4 separate regions of the Homo sapiens genome follow, and regions 2, 3 and 4 are each reported to be linked to region 1. The links are microRNA targets in miRTarBase. Many come from high-throughput screens and were not tested one by one. Region 1 holds a microRNA gene; each other region holds the end of a gene's coding sequence. Distances are from middle to middle.
Evidence for each region. The annotated mature microRNA hsa-miR-4433a-3p reads ACAGGAGUGGGGGUGGGACAU and lies in region 1 at 1,783-1,803, opposite strand. An mRNA with a match to its seed (bases 2 to 7 or 8) in the 3' UTR can be bound and repressed. Matches are read on the target gene's strand: a 7mer-m8 pairs with bases 2 to 8, a 7mer-A1 pairs with bases 2 to 7 and ends in A, and an 8mer does both.

Region 1 (4,399 bases):
GAAAAATACCAGGCAGAGGAAGCACTATGTCCTCTGTGGCAGAAAGGATCATGGCAGGCATATTAGTCAGGACCCAGCCAGGAAAGCAAAACCCACTCTAGGTGATTTGATAGAGGGAATTTCATACGGGGAGTCAGAGGAGTTGAAAGAGCTCCCAGGGGAACCCTGAGAGTAGCAACTCCAGGAAGCTGGGACTACTGTATTTGTTTGCTAGGGCTGCAGTAACAAAGTGCCACAGACTGGGTGGCTTCACACAGAAAGTTATTGTCTCAGAGTTCTGAAGGCTGGAAGTCCAAAATCAAGGTGTCAGAAGGGGTAGTTCCTTTTGAGGCCTATGAGGGAAGGATCTGTTCCACGCCTCTTTCCTTGACTTGTAGATGACCATTTTCACCTATGTCTCTTCACATCGTCTTCCCTCTGTGTGTGTCTATCTCTGTCCAAACTTCCCCTTTTTATAAGGACAACATTCATATTGGATTAGGGTCCACCCTAATGACCTCACTTTAATTCGGCTACTCTATAAAGACCACAACCCTAAATAAGGTCACACTCTAAAGTACTGGGGGTTAGAACTTCAACACATGAACTTGCAGGGGAGACACAATTCAACCCATAGCACCACCCTGGAAGCTGGAGAACAAGGAAAGAAACAGTTTCTGGAGCCTAAGACAAGATAAGCTGGAACAAAGAGGGCCTGCCAAGATGGGTAGCAGGGATCACACAGAGATGGCTGTGTAGTGGGAACTGCAGCCACAGAAGAGACTCCTGAGAAAGAGAAGCAGGAGAAGTACTCTGGCTTCTCCTTCCTTCACCTCCAATATCTTTTGCCCTCCCTCACTCCCCATTGGCTGAACTTTACTGGAAGGCAGTTGGCTCTGGAGCCTGGAACAGCCCCCAGTGACACAGAGCAGATCGGGGGACCACGGGATGGGAAGGGTGGACATGGCTCTGACAGCAACAATGTAACACCCATGCAACGAGTCTGCGAGGCCGAATGGAAGCCAGCTGGCTGCAGGGGAGAGAGCAAGAGAGTCTGGCAGAAGGTGCACCTGGAGAAGGAAGTAGAGGCCAGGCCAGGTAGGAGTTTGGTCTGCATGCTAAGAGCCATAGAAATATCCAAAGGTTTTTAATAGAGCTGGGGGAGAGGCGGTGATGTGATCAGAGATGTGTTTTGAAAAGACCTATCTGGCTATGAAGTGGAGAGTGGGTTGAGGATAGTGGGGCAGATCAGTTAGAAGGCTACGCCTAAGAGAAAGCCTGTTTTACAAAAAGAGGGAGCTCCTGCTGCCCCTCTCTTTCCCTGGAGTTTTCATACCCTCCACGTGTACTAGACATGTGTATCTGCCAGTCAAAGCCACCCCTCCCCTGGTGCAGAGGCCCGCTCCAAGCTCTCATTGCCCAGTGTCCTTTTTCTAGATCCTCTCCTGGTTCACTTCCTTTCTCTCTGGGCAGTCCTTCCCATGCTGCAACACTGATTCTTCTTTTGTCACCCACCTGCTGCAAGGGGGGCCCTTGTCACCCATCTCACCCATCACTCTGGCTTAATGGTGCTGACTGAGTCCACGGCTTTGGTGGCCACCCATATGTTGCTGCTGCTTCTCAGATCTGTATTTCCAGACATGATTTCTCTCGTGAGAAAAATCAGCCTGCCAGATATCTCCACTGGAATGTCCAAAGGAATTGGAATCATGAGCTCAGCATGTCTAAAACTGAACACATTATCTTCCCCTCGCACGTGGACCCCTGTAACCTGCCCTTCATCCTGTGTTCCCTATCCTCCTTATGTCCCACCCCCACTCCTGTTTGAATATTTCACCAGAAACAGGAGTGGGGGGTGGGACGTAAGGAGGATGGGGGAAAGAACATCATCCTAAACTATTCCCTCTTACTCCCCCACATCCCATTGCTGTCCAAGTCCTGTTGGCTCTGTCCTAGATATCTGTCAAAATCCACTTTTCCTGCTACTTCCCTAGCCCAGGTCCTCATTTTTATGTGGGTTCATGCAGTGGTCTCCTAGCTGGCTTCCTGCCTCAAGCCTTGCCCTGGCCGGTCCACTTTTCCTACAATCAAAGTGACATCTACCAGTGTAAATAGATCATGTCCTTTCTCTGCTTAAAATCCCTTCAGTGATTTCTTATCGTCCTCAAGTCAAGTCTGATTACTATCTCTGCACAGTGCCCAGCCCACAATAAATGATTGGTGATTAAATGAATAAATGACAAACCAATATAGAAAAATTGCTAAGTGTGGAAATGAAGAAAAGATGCCATTTTTTTTCCCCTGGAAGTCTTTCCGACTGTCCAAGACTCAATCTGGATCTATCCTTGGGTGTGTTTGTATTGTACTTCTCACACTATACTAAACCCATCTACTTACCTGTCTGTTTCCTACTGGAATGTTCCTTGGTTGCTACTATATCTCTTAGCACAGCTCCTGGAAGAAAGTAAATGCTCAAAAAATATTTGATGAATGAATGAATGATAAGGAGAGCTCTGGGCTGGGGCTGACTATGAAATGCTTATTAGGAGCAGAGTGTGTCTGTCCTGGTTCCAAAGCACTGGGGGAACCAGGATGGGTAGAGAGGCTGAAGGCAAGCCCTTTAGGGGAAGGATAGCAGTGACGAAGGCTGAAAGATCAACAGCAATACATTTTTCTCAGGAGACTTCTTTGGGGCAGTGTTTTCTAAGCTGGGTTCCAGGGACCACTGGTCTTGCGAGATGCTCTATCTAGGGTTCTATATCAAATCAGCATGTAGAAACATGCAGCCCATACCCCTTGTGTACATCAGCATCTCAAAGAGTCTGAGAAGTCCTGCAGTTGAAAAACCAACACTTTAACCCTTTTAACTCAGTATTTCCTGAACTTATTCCATAAGTTTGAATATACAAAAATAAAGTTTTTTGCTTAATACTCAGCAACACCCCCTTCCACAAGATATACTGGAATAAATAGTGTTTGGTGGTCATGAGTATTTTAGGAAAAGGGCAGGAGAAGCTTGAATTTCCCCCAGTGTGCCTTGGGTGAGCACTGTGGTTATAGCCACTTGATGAGAACAGTCAGAGGAAGGCTGCTCTGGGCCATCAAGTGCAGACTGTATAGGACAGGAGAAGGGTGGGAACAGAGACACCCCTGAAGGGGTTGTAGATTCAGGGGGAAAGGTGATGGATGGCCTGGACAAAGATTGTGGTGGAAACAAAATCAATGGGCACACGATTTTCCCTTCTTGGAAGAACCTCTGAAAGGAGAAGCCCTATTCACCCCGACTGCCTGGCTTAGGCCACACCCCTAGAAATGCAGCTACAACCAGGGCAAACCATCAACAGCATCTTCTCAGCACCCATGCGATCCCAAGTAGGCATCCGAGGACATGCAAAAGAGAAGCATGTGTCCTTTTGTGGTCAAAGTCTGTTTTCTCTCTTGGAGCAGGTATGCTTCTGATGGTGCTGCAAGCAGCAGGGGGTAAGGCTGCAAGCTGGGCTAAAAACAGCCCCACCCCCTCTAGCCACAATCAGCTGTGGGATAAAAGCCCCTAAAGACCAAGACTGTACTCATGTCTGACTCATCTCTGCTTCCAGCTCTCAGCTAAACCTGCCCAGAGGAGAGCATGGCAGACAGGAGGGCGCTTGCTCAGAAGCCTCTAGGTTAGAGGTAAACAGGACTAAGGTTAATAAAGAAATTCATAATGAGGGTATAGCAACTGTACCCCCACCCCATCACCAGATGATGACCTGGTCTGAGAGAGGAAACATGCAGGTGGGTCACATAACTCAATGTAAAGCAGGTAGCGCACCATGCCTGCATTTAAGGGCTCAGCAGGTGTTACTTATTACTATTATTTACTCCTATGCAAGTAACTGAAAAAAAATTACTTCATTTAAGATCTTTAGCAAATACTTTTGGTGTTAACTCTTTCAGGGACACTTCTTTTTTAAAAATTTATTTTTTAATATAAATGGGACAGGGTCTAGCTATGTTGCCTAGGCTGGTCTCGAACTCCTAGGCTCAAGGGGTCCTCCACCCTCAGCCTCCCAAAGTGCTGGGATTACAGGCACGAGCCACTGCATCTGGCCTGAGGGACACTGCTAACGCAGTACCTGGTGCTTTTCTGGCCCCTAAGCCCATGGGCTTAGGAAAAAATTAAGTCAGTGCCAAAGAGGACCCCAAACCCCACCATTGTTTCACAGACAGTGTTCAGTATGGCCTGTACCTCAGGGTAATCACTTCATTTTGCTCTTTTCTCTCCAATGCTCTCAGTGTGGAGGGAACTGGGAGGACCTGTCTGACCACAAACAACCCACCTGAGGAGGCCCTGCTGCTCCCGGAGGGTGCTCCTGCCAGAGTTCTCCTAGTTCCTTGCAAGGAGCCCTGGAAAAACAATCCCACCCTGGGTCTAACATAG
Region 2 (4,000 bases), 120 Mb from region 1:
CTCAGTGAATTAAAAGGTTTATATAGGATTACATTGTTAAGATTCTTGGAGAAAAACATATAAACACCAAATGAAAACTTTGCACTCTTTTCTTTATCTTTTGCAGCAAAGCGGTTAATATTCCAGAAATGAAAATCATTTAAATTTTGCATAATTTTTATAATTTCAGGGGTTAAGCATCTGAAAGGCCAGAATGAATCAGCATTCCCTGAAGAAGAAGAAGGCACCAATGAAAGAGAGGAGCAGCGGGACCATTAATTACTGGTCTGCAGCAAGAAGGCTTCTTGGAAATAACTGAACTATTAACTTTTCTGAGTATACCATGGAATTCCACTGCTTGACTTCCAGAAGCATCCTCCATCTCTGCACCCCACACTCATACAGTAGCTATGCACATCCTGGAAGTCTCCTTGACTGAACTTTAGAACTAAGTACACATTGTTCCACATCACTTATAATTAAAGAATAAGCATTTATTTTACAGTGATTCTTCTTTTTAACTATGTAAAAATTTGCATACATGTGACTGTTCTAACTTTAATACTGCCAGAGCTTAATCCTTGATGTCCTACTGATAAGGTTTGCATTCTAACAACACATGTAAATAACATCACTTTAAGAGTAAAAAATAAATAGTAAACACATTTAGACATGAGTGTGTGTGTGTGTGTGTGTGGGTTTAGCTTAAAGAGAAATATCTAATAAAGCTTTTAGCTTGAGATTTGCATTGATCATATTTCTGTATTCAGAACAGAACACAATGTTCATTTTTAAATGATGAAGAAATGCCAGTTTTCTTGATTCAATACACCACAATATTAGATACTAAACATCTTTTTCCCACCAACAACACATTAATGGTTGATTATACAACTACAGAATTCTCTTCATTTTCTAAGCTGCAAGATATATATTTCCCAGCATTTTCTCTAGTTATTAAGAAAGAAGAATGATAAATCCAAAAATCTATGCCAAATCTTCCTACCTCCTCTTTTAGCTATTACTTGAAATTTGGGCCATCTATTTCCTATTGCATTTTGATAAATAATATAGCAGTTTATAAATCTTCCATATCATAAAATAAGAAATTCCATTAATTCATTCATATAGTCATTTATTCATTAATTAAACAAATATCTTTTATGAGCTTATCCCTAGGAAGGTACTATGCTGCGAATTATAGAAATAAAAGAAAGATACTTTTACCCCTATAGAACTGGCAGAAAAGATAAAGCATTAGCATAAAGCAAGATTTTATATGACAGTGTATATTTATTGAATATGGCTTTTTCATAATTTAAAATTCTGGGCATTTTGAACAATTTTAATTATACATTATTTGTGAAGGCAAAGTATCTAAACTACAAAATTTAGGGGGAATGGAAGAATACTCAGTTTGGTCCTTTATTAATAATATTAATGAAATTCAAATGTATCATGGATAAAAAATAAAAAGATTTCTCAAAAGTCAGTAAAGGACAAATGAAGGCAGGAAGAAAAAATCAAATGTGTAATCCACTGTGGGATCTTAATATCAAGATTCAAATATGTAAAATGATTGCTTTTAATTTTGAATATGAGTTTTGTAATGTAGAAGTTAAGAGAGTTTTATGGAGCTATAAAGAATGCAGTGAGTTGACAACCATTTTCCTTAGTATTTTTCCCCAAGAAAATAAGTGTGAAACCCGTTGATAAGCATACCACATGTATAAATGACTATTCTAGATTCCTCTCTCTCTCCTTCTGTTCCTTTCTTCTGTCTTTCTCCCTCCCTCCTTCTCTTCCTTTCTTTCTTCCTTTTCTCTCTCCCTCTCTCCCCTTCTCCCTCTCCTTCTCTGTCTTTCTCCACCCCTCCCATGACTTTTTCTTTTTTTTTTAAATTATACTTTAAGCTTTAGGGTACATGTGCACAACATGCAGGTTTGTTACATATGTATACATGTGCCGTGTTGGTGTGCTGCATGCATTAACTCGTCATTTAACATTAGGTATATCTCCTAATGCTATCCCTCCCCCCACCACCCACCCCACAGCAGGCCCCGGTGTGTGATGTTCCCCTTCCTGTGTCCGTGTGTTCTCACTGTTCAATTCCCACCTATGAGTGGGAACATGTGGTGTTTGGTTTTTTTGTCCTTGCAATAGTTTGCTGAGAATGATGGTTTCCAGCTTTATCCATGTCCCTACAAAGGACATGAACTCATCATTTTTTATGGCTGCATAGTATTCCATGGTGTATATGTGCCACATTTTCTTAATCCAGTCTATCATTGTTGGACATTTGGGTTGGTTCCAAGTCTTTGCTATTGTGAATAGTGCCGCAATAAACATACGTGTGCGTGTGTCTTTATAGCAGCATGATTTATAATCCTTTGGGTATATACCCAGTAATGGGATGGCTGGGTCAAATGGTATTTCTACTTCTAGATCCCTGAGGAATCACCACACTGACTTCCACAATGGTTGAACTAGTTTACAGTCCCAACAACAGTGTAAAAGTGTTCCTATTTCTCCACATCCTCTCCAGCACCTGTTGTTTCCTGACTTTTTAATGATCACCATTCCAACTGGTGTGAGATGGTATCTCATTGTGGTTTTGATTTGCATTTCTCTGATGGCCAGTGATGATGAGCATTTTTTCATGTGTCTGTTGGCTGCATAAATGTCTTCTTTTGAGAAGTGTCTGTTCATATCCTTCAGCCACTTTTTGATGGGGTTGTTTGTTTTTTTCTTGTAAGTTTTTTGGAGTTCACTATAGATTCTGGATATTAGCCCTTTGTCAGATGAGTAGATTGCAAAAATGTTCTCCCATTTTGTAGGTTGCCTGTTCACTCTGATGGTAGTTTCTTTCGCTGTGCAGAAGGTCTTTAGTTTAATTAGATCCCATTTGTCAGTTTTGGCTTTTGTTGCCATTGCTTTTGGTGTTTTAGGCATGAAGTCCTTGCCCATGCCTATGTCCTGAATGGTATTGCCTAGGTTTTCTTCTAGGGTTTTTATGGTTTTAGGTCTAACATTTAAGTCTTTAATCCATCTCGAATTAATTTTTGTATAAGGTGTAAGGAAGGGATCCAGTTTCAGCTTTCTACATATGGCTAGCCAGTTTTCCCAGCACCATTTATTAAATAAGGAATCCTTTCCCCATTTCTTGTTTTTGCCAGGTTTGTCAAAGATCAGATGGTTGTAGATATGCGGCATTATTTCTGAGGGCTCTGTTTTGTTCCATTGGTCTATATCTGTTTTGGCACCAGTACCATGCTGTTTTGGTTACTGTAGCCTTGTAGCTGAAGGAAGTAGAGACACAAAAAACCCTTCAAAAAATCATTGAATCCAGGAGCTGGTTTTTTGAAAAGATCAACAAAATTGATAGATCGCTAGCAAGACTAATAAAGAAGAAAAGAGAGAAGAATCAAATAGATGCAATAAAAAATGATAAAGGGGATATCACCACCGATCCCCTGACTTTTTCTTTGTTAAGCCAAAACTTTCTGGAATTTCTATACCACCTGCTATGACTCTTTGTTTATTTCTCAAGTTTCTCTCTACTTAAAACCTGATTAAGGCCCTTATTTATTTTAAGTGATTTTGAATTACTTGTGTTTGGAAAACATCTCAATGCCCCTTGAGAGTATTTGAGACACCCTGAGGTGCTAAACATAACATTGCCCTTCCCTTTCCTTGAACAGATGCTTTTAAAATGCTTTTTCAAAGGGACTCAGGCAAACAAAAAGAAACCAAAGCTTTTGCTGATTTTGTAACATCATTTAGGGTAATATACAGTATAGCTTCTGGATTTTTCTGTTCTGTTCTCCATTCCTAAAAAAAAACACAAAGAAATCAAAATTAAGAACATAAGTTTTCTTTGGGAAATGGTTTCTTCCATTCTGTTCTCCACTCTCAAAACACAGAGAGAATTCAATTAAAAGCTTAAGTTTTCTTTGAGAAATATGTTGACTTTCTCAGAAATTTGAAGGAAACCAGTTGAGATAATGGCTTTTCACTTTAC
Region 3 (4,000 bases), not on the chromosome of region 1:
TATCCCCATTTATCTCTGCACGATGTCTTTATCTCAGTGTCTCAATTCACACTAAAATATTGAATGAGAAATACACCACGTTGGCTGATTGCTTGACATGTCTGATTTAGGGAGACTTCTACAACCACTCCTCTCTTTTTTCTCCCAGTAAATACTTTTGACTTTGACACCTACCATATTGGAAATGACAGGTGCCCGAGGGCAAGTGCATCAAAGCAGTTAGGATTCGAATGCTTGCTAAGGATTATTTTTTTAATGGAGCAGTTCTATTGAATCCTGAAAATGCAGAACCCAGTGAATCTCCTTTATTGTGAAACAGAACAATTCAAATGATTGCAAGCCCCAGAACCTAACAGAGAAGCACTTAAACATTTAGAACAAACATACCTATTTTTCAAACTTTGGCATTTTTGTGAAGTACACTTATCATCTAAATACCTCTCTCCCGTCTTCTCTTTTACAACATACCATTTCAACCTGTTTGTTTAAAGAATGAAGGCCTTAAGGAAAAGCCTTATTCACATCCCCGTAAAAGAAAGAAATAAATATTTGTTTCTAGAATCAATCTAACTGAACTTGACTAAATCTTGATAGAGGCTCCAATCTTACTCACACATAAGGCGATGGATGATCTTTTGTTGTCAACAAATTCTCATTAAGATAGCTAAACAGTTAATTATAATTATTCAAATGTATTTCTTGAGTTCCTACTATGTGCAAAGTATCGTTCCAAAGTAGACACTCTTCCTTAGAAATAAAGTGGGCCACTGAAATCATAACTTCAAAAGTCTAGAACTTTTGATACACCCAAAATATGAGAGGAAAAGTTTGCTGCTGCTGTTACTGTTGCTGCTTCCAAAAGTGCCCAGTTTAATTCTAGGGAATAGCTTAGGCATTGGAAGAATATAATTTAAACTTAAGCATTAATAAAAGATGGAGTTAGGGAATGGTTGTACCTTTATGCCATAACACAACTAATAATGTGAAGTACATTCTAAAATGATTTAAAATGATTGTGAAACAAAACAATTCATCTAAAATGAATTGTTTGATCTAAAATGCTAGCATCTGGCCAGGCGAGGTGGCTCATGCCTGTAATCCCAGCACTTTGGGAAGCCAAGGTGGGCGGATCACATAAGGCCAGGAGTTCAAGACCAGCCTGGCCAACATGGCGAAACCCTGTCTCTACTAAAAATACAAAAAATTAGCCGGGTGTGCTGGTGCACATCTGTAATCCCAGCTACTCAGGAGGCTGAGGCAGAAGAATTGCTTGAACCCAGGAGTCGGAGGTTGCAGTGAGCCGAGATCAAACCACTGCAACTCCAGCCTAGGTGACAGAGTGAGACTCTGTCTCAAAAAAAAAAAAAAAATGCTAGCATCTGGGTGAAACAGTCTAGGAGATGACACCAGCTTGAAAAGAAACCAATATAAATTTCAAAATAAACCAGCATACAGACCAATTGCAATTTATAGAAAAAATAAAAATGTAGAAACATCACCTCCTCTCCCCGACCCCAGTACTGAAATTATACTTCCTCAGACATACTGCCCCATCACTGGGAAGGGTGCGGACAGATTGGGTACATTTATAGAATATTAAATAATTAAGTAACAGAGGCACCGTTTTTGCATGTATGGTCCCAAAGACTTTTCAACTTATTTTTCAACATTACAGTTGTTAAGAATGGAAATTGAAGGAATTGTACATATTTTCACTGACAGTTTCTTACAGACCCCAAAGTGAAAATGCAACACATCACCACCATAAGACAAGCGATTTTGTCTGTCACCCAGAAGACATAACTTGATAGGACATCAGGCTTGCAAGTTCTAAGTGCTTCCTTCACATACCTCTAAACTTTTTATCTTTCCTGAACTAAATAGATTCCTTTTCCAGGTCAAGTGATACCTTCTGGCAAAATACCTTCAGGATAAATATGCTTCCTCAGTTATATATCCCACAATGCAAGCTTCCATTACAAGCTTAAACTCAGCTCCTGGTCTTGCCATTCAAGACTCTCCACACTTACTTCAAAGGATCACTTAAAACACTAGAGAAAAAGAATCTCCCTGAAGGAGAGAGACAATCAAGGAAAGCAATGCTATTTCCAGCTCATGCCCTGCCTTAGAAACTCAAACTTAATCTCATCTCTTGCAAAGAGCCTCAGCAGTCTCCCATTTAGAAACTTGCTCTTATTATTTTCTAAATGTGGTGATTAAATAAAATTAAATGCAAACACTAAACAATAATTAAAAATTAAATTACAAACTTAAAATAAATAAAAAATACATGGACTGGCACTTTTCAGAGAAGGTAATAATAGACAAAGGTCAGTTTCAGGAACTTCATATTCCTTTCTGTACCAGTTTCTACAACAGGCGGGAAACACTGCCCCCTAATGGGCTTTTAGTGTTACATCCCTTGTTCATACGGTGAGACACTGCCCCAGGGTGCACGTACGCGTGCTCTCTCTCTCTCTCTCTCATTTTGGCTTCTGGGACACAGTCTGTCCTTGGTCATCTGTGAACGACTCTGAAGACCATGGAGTCCCTAGAGAAGCCGTGAGACTTCGTGAAAGCTCATCAAGGGGATTAGAAGTTAGCATTTGTTGCAGTGATTTTCAAACCTTAGTGTGCCGCAGAACCACCCAGAGAAATTGTTTAAACTCAGGTTGCTGGGCCCCACAGCCAGAGTTTCTGATTCCATAAATCAGGAGGGTTGTGTCCAAGAATTTGCCTTTCTAACAAGTTCCTGGGTGATGTTAATTTGCCATTCCAGGGACTACACTATATGAGCCAGCACCATCATGCTAGGCACTTTGGCTCATTTAATATCTCACAACAGGGTGAGATTTTATCATCTTTGTTTTACACAGTCTCAGAGAGATTAGGTGGCTACACTCACACAGTAGTGACAAAGCCTGTCTCAAGCCCAGGACTGTCTAACTCAAAACCCATCACTCTCTTCTGAACACAATGATGTCGGGAAATGAAGTTGGCAGTCGCTCCATCTATCTGGCCCTCAGCTTCATGTGAGGGAGCAGGACTTAGATGACGGCTTCACGGGCTTCCCCTCTGAGTACTTGGAGGACTGGATTGGGAGCCACTCAGGAAAGGCCTACTTCATACCCAGGCCGCATCTGGGAGTAAGTAAGCTGAGGGGAAAGGGAAGAGGAGGAGATATCAGCACCAGGGTCCTCTCTGGGTTCTGAACCATCCTACAACGTTCAGAGAAGGGCTGATTTGCTCTGGATTCTGGAGTTCTTTGTATCAGAAATTCTGGAATAGAGGCAAACGCCTTCCTCACGCACATTTTGAGGACTTCAAAGACTAGTAGGACTTGGAGAGGACCCAGAGGATGGCACTCTCTCCAGTCTCAGGCCAAGCCACCAGGGCAGGGTCAGGGACCCCGAAATAACTTTAAAACAGGAGTGCCTGCCCAGCTGTGTTTAGACAGAAAGTTTTTGATAAAGGAAAAAGAGTTTTTGGGTCACATTTTTCCACTAGGAAGACTGAAAAGTCCGTAGCACTCAAGCCCAGGCAGATGTCACAGTGATGGGAAAAGAAGGGCTTTGGGGACCTGCCCACTTCAAAAACAGTTTTTCTCATCCTTTGCCTTCGGCTCCTAACCCAGCTTGGTGTTTTCCTAAGGGAGCTACAAATTCTGGAGCATCCCATGAGGATGATTTGCTGGCCTCGGTCATTAGGGGGAAAGGATGTTCTCAGAAAAACAGCCCTGCACGCTGGTCAGCAGAGATCTTGAGGTCGTGGCCACGACTGGACTTGGTGCAGAGCTGAACCCGAGACTCCAGCTGCTCGCTGAGTTCGTCCAGAGCCCCGGTGCAGGACTCCAGGCTCTCGGCCAGTTTCTGAATCTTGGCCTTCAGCACGGCCTGGCTAACCTTGGTGTCCCCCTCCGCCCGCCTGGGGATGAGGAAGCCACGTGAGCCAAAGAAGACGATGAAGTAGACAGAATTGTACAGGGCGATGGAGGCGTTCC
Region 4 (4,000 bases), not on the chromosome of region 1:
ACAAGGCAAGAGCGTGTAAAGTGAAGGATCCTACTGTGCTGGGGGAAGGACACCATATGTGCTTAGCTGCATGACTGTATCAGTAAATGATGGAGAATAAAATTGGCCCCACTCAGGAAAACACTGGAAGCCCAGAAAGCAAGTAGCCTAGCTATGCATAATAGTTACTGCCAATCAGAAGTTATGAGGTCTTACAATTCATCTAAAACTGCTAATATTCACAATTTGAATTTTCAGCACACCCCTGGGGCAAAGTAGAAGCTCACTGCTCCAAGAGGTATGCAAGGTAAAAGGAAACACAGTTTGAGAATAAAACATTCACCACACAGGTCAACACACAAAAGTGTTAATGCACACATTGAGGAGTTGAAAATACTTTTGAATTTTAAGATAATAATTTATATATCGATTAAAAAAGATTTCAAATTCAACATGCTAAATTTTATACAGTACGATAAACTAAAAAGGAAAAAATTTTACATCTGTGTGTTTAATAAAATGTTTTATAATTTTGATGCTTTTATTCTAGGCTTTGTACAAGCTTTACAGTGCAGCAGCAACCCACAGACATCTGTATCATCAAGCTTTCCCTACACCAAAGTCGGAATCTACTGAACAATCAGAAAAGAAAAAAATGTAATGCAAATTTTAAGAAATACAGGTGCATGACCAATTGTCAATTAAATATTCAGTTTTATGTCTCCATGCAAACATTCAAAGTGCTTCCATCAGAACGGAGTAAAATACTAAACACCTCTGAAGACTGCAAACTGGATTAGTTCTTTTACTTCAGTGTTTAATAAGCAGATGTATGTATGCATGGTTATACTATTTTGTTAACATGTACAATTTCCTGATTTTTCTTCAAAAATGCTGTTATAAAGTATTTGTCTATTTATGATAACAGTACACGTGTTCTGCTTGAATTTACTAAATTCTACTACTGGGTTATAATTAAATCATGTGATATTCCACGTTTGGATATGCTCATTTAATTTCTACAGAAAAAATTTTAAATTATTTCACATTAGCCATTTGTTAAAACACAGCATCATAACTCAGCAGGCTGGATTTAATCTGTATCATCTTATATATATCACAATCTTATTTTTAAGCACATTTTAGAGTTCCTTAGTTGCTTTATCAAAAACCAGATATTGCTTTTACATGGTTTAATAGAATATAAACCTCTTGATAAAAAATGCACAAAAAATCACTTTGTATATGTGAGTTTCACTGCATTGTATATTTTTTCATTTGGTACACAAAGAATGTATTCTTCATAGGTTTATTCTTTTAATATGTGAACTATTATTAAAGTTTACTCTGGTTCCTAAGATTAAAAACAAATGCTTACTGAATTTGAAAATGAGAGGTGCTGATATAGAATGATGAAGGTTTATCTCTTTTTTTAGACTCAAGATGCATTTTATTTAATGTTGACATCAGTACAAACTTAAGTTTCTATTTTACAAAACATGCTAATTCCTTTAGGTAACTTCTAGTTCTTAATGACTAAAATCTCTAGTGGAGTTTCACTGAACAGACTTCTTAGAGGAAGAAGGAAAGTGTGTTAATGAAAAAAGTAATACTTATCTAGGAGGTCCAAAACAGAGAAACTTCTAAAGACTGTCACAGAAATGGCTACACCATAATTAAGTAGCGATATAAAGTAAGAAGTGACAGGAAAGAACAATTAAGATAGAGGAGTGTGGGAGTTCATAAGATATATATACTGACATCTTAGAAAAGTCTGATCACAAGTTCAGCAAATTATCTTTTCCCAGTGATAAAATTCCACTAGCCACACTTTCATTTTTCAATACCCCTTTTCATTACCCCTTTCAATTATATTGATTCCTTTGTCTATGGCCTTTTGAACAGAAAAATGAAATACAGCACTATGTCTAAAACATGGACTCAAAAACCACGCGCTTAGTTTCCACAAAAATATATTTAATAAGCTTGTTATATAAAATCAAACACTTAACATTGTCAACATTTCTTCAGTTATTCAAACTCACTGATATCTAACTGGGAGTAGTTTGTATTCTGGAAGACTTCCTAAGCTAAAAGTATATTTACATATTTACAACACATGTAAATATAACTGAAGAACTACTTCAAATAATGTTGAAATTCACAGAATTCTAGAGATTTATAGTTATAGTTTAGAAGTATCACCAATTTGTTTGCAATCAAATGTACAGCACTAATTATGAAAAATGTTTTAACTATTAAACCAAAAGGGGAGAAAAACTGGGAGGGAAATATATGGTGTTAAAGTCCTGTGATAAATACTTAGAAAATTAAAAAGTAATAATATACATTCGATTTAATGACCAAAAATTTTTTTTGAATCCCTGGTTGTCATTTTTGGTAGCTTAACCCAGTCTGTCAGAAGGCAGTATGCTATGCTGTCAGGAACTCTCCACTGCCTCGTCAGAGCCATGCTAAATGCAGTAACAGCACTGGCTGAAAATAAGGAAGATGATGTTAGCAACTTTGAGTTTCACGCACCTTCCCAATACAGGCTAAGTATTCCTGCTTATATGTATTCCTGAAAGATTAAAAGGCCCGTCACCCATTCATACCAAAAAATACTTTCTCAACATGCTTTAAAAGGATTCCTTATTTTGTTTTTATTTTTTTATTTTTTATTTTTTGAGACAAGGTCTGGCTCTCTCTCTCTCAGGCTGCAGTGCAAGTGGTGCGATCTTGACCCTGCAACCTCTGCCTCTTGGGCTCAAGCCATCCTCTGACCTCAGCCTCCCAAGTAGCTGGGACTAGAGGCACACACCATCATACCCGGCTAATTTTTTTGTATTTTTTGTAGAGATGGGGCTTCACCATGTTGCCCAGGCTGGTCTTAAACTCGTGGACTCAAGCGGTCCACCCACCTCGGCCTCCCAAAATGCTGGGATTACAGGAGTGAGCCACCACGCCCAGCTGGGTTCCTTACTTTGGAGAGGGGAGACAAACATACATCATATATAAATATTTATCACAATAAGGTTCCAAATCCTATTTTATATTTCAACTACATCATGGTAATATTTAAACCATCCCTTTCCAGACAATATTTCACACTACAGCGGTAAACTTTTTTTTTAAAAAAATACCGCAGATTCTTTTTTTTTTTTAAAGAAGGTACTACTGCTGTAAGAAGTTAACAAGTAATAATTTCCTATTTAACATCTGTTCATAATGACATTTCCGCTGCGTTTTTTTCCATCAAGAATACCAAAACAGTTTCCTAATATACAGTATTTGAAAGTGTTTGCCATATTGGCTCTTAAAATGATAGACTAATTTTTCTCATTCAATAAAAGAAAATTTCTAATAACAAAATACATGTAAAGTTAGAATTTTATAATTTCCACAAAGGAAGCAGCATTTATTAACCAGAGTACTTGTTTGCAATTTTTTATCTGTGAAAATATTTTAAAGCTCTTACAAAACTTAAATTTTTAAAAAATCAGCTCAAAAATTTTTTCCATGTTGTTGGGCATACCACTGCTGTCTCTGCTTTCGGTTTTCCAACTCTGTAAGAAGGGCTTGTCTGTATGCTTCATACATTTTAACAATCTGCTCCAATTCTTTCATGAAGAGCAACTTTAGCATTCCCTGGTATGTATCCAGGTCAGCCAGCTGGAAGAGTTCCCACTTCAGAATGTGGTCATATCTGTTTTAAAACACAATCATATATATGTTCACAACACATACATAAACATGTATTTCTAGCAAGAAACTAGTCTGTTTTTTAAAATGTCAACTTTATTTATAACTAAACAAACCATAAGTTTTAATTAAAAATAACTGGGCACAGTGGTGGCGCCTATTATAGTCCCAGCTACTTGGGAGGCTGAGGTGGGAGGCTGAGGTGGGAGGACTGCTTGTGCCCAAGAGTTTGAGGCCAGCCTGGGCAACATAGCAAGACCCTGTTTCTAAAAATAAATAAATCAGTTTTTTAAAAATCTGAGTTATTAACTGCTATTTA

Region 2: the mRNA of PPP1R1C is a reported target of hsa-miR-4433a-3p. The part of its 3' UTR that is shown has no 7-base or 8-base seed match.
Region 3: miRTarBase lists APOLD1 as a target of hsa-miR-4433a-3p. Seed matches in the 3' UTR shown: 7mer-m8 at 3,427-3,433, 7mer-A1 at 2,711-2,717, 7mer-m8 at 1,278-1,284, 7mer-A1 at 1,245-1,251 and 7mer-m8 at 1,142-1,148.
Region 4: the mRNA of SAV1 is a reported target of hsa-miR-4433a-3p. Seed matches in the 3' UTR shown: 7mer-m8 at 2,927-2,933.

What each region holds. Positions count from the first base shown.
Region 1 is chr2:64,338,213-64,342,611 of GRCh38, reverse strand. MIR4433A (microRNA 4433a) reads right to left here and starts at 1,853; the gene lies at 1,773-1,853. It overlaps MIR4433B (microRNA 4433b), which reads left to right and starts at 1,764; the gene lies at 1,764-1,865. It overlaps LOC105374768 (a long non-coding RNA gene), which reads left to right and starts at 903. Exons shown (of 3, transcript NR_189739.1): 1 at 903-1,077; 2 at 4,255-4,399.
Region 2 is chr2:182,117,038-182,121,037 of GRCh38, forward strand. It overlaps PPP1R1C (protein phosphatase 1 regulatory inhibitor subunit 1C), which reads left to right. Exons shown (of 5, transcript NM_001080545.3): 5 at 170-719. The coding sequence ends at 258. Among named protein-coding and RNA genes, the nearest start is that of PPP1R1C, 130 kb to the left of the region's middle.
Region 3 is chr12:12,787,375-12,791,374 of GRCh38, reverse strand. It overlaps APOLD1 (apolipoprotein L domain containing 1), which reads right to left. Exons shown (of 2, transcript NM_030817.3): 2 at 1-4,000. The coding sequence ends at 3,723. Among named protein-coding and RNA genes, the nearest start is that of APOLD1, 3.7 kb to the right of the region's middle.
Region 4 is chr14:50,631,700-50,635,699 of GRCh38, forward strand. It overlaps SAV1 (salvador family WW domain containing protein 1), which reads right to left. Exons shown (of 5, transcript NM_021818.4): 5 at 1,881-3,685. The coding sequence ends at 3,484. ATL1 (atlastin GTPase 1) reads left to right here. Exons shown (of 14, transcript NM_015915.5): 14 at 530-1,346. The coding sequence ends at 640. Among named protein-coding and RNA genes, the nearest start is that of SAV1, 35 kb to the right of the region's middle.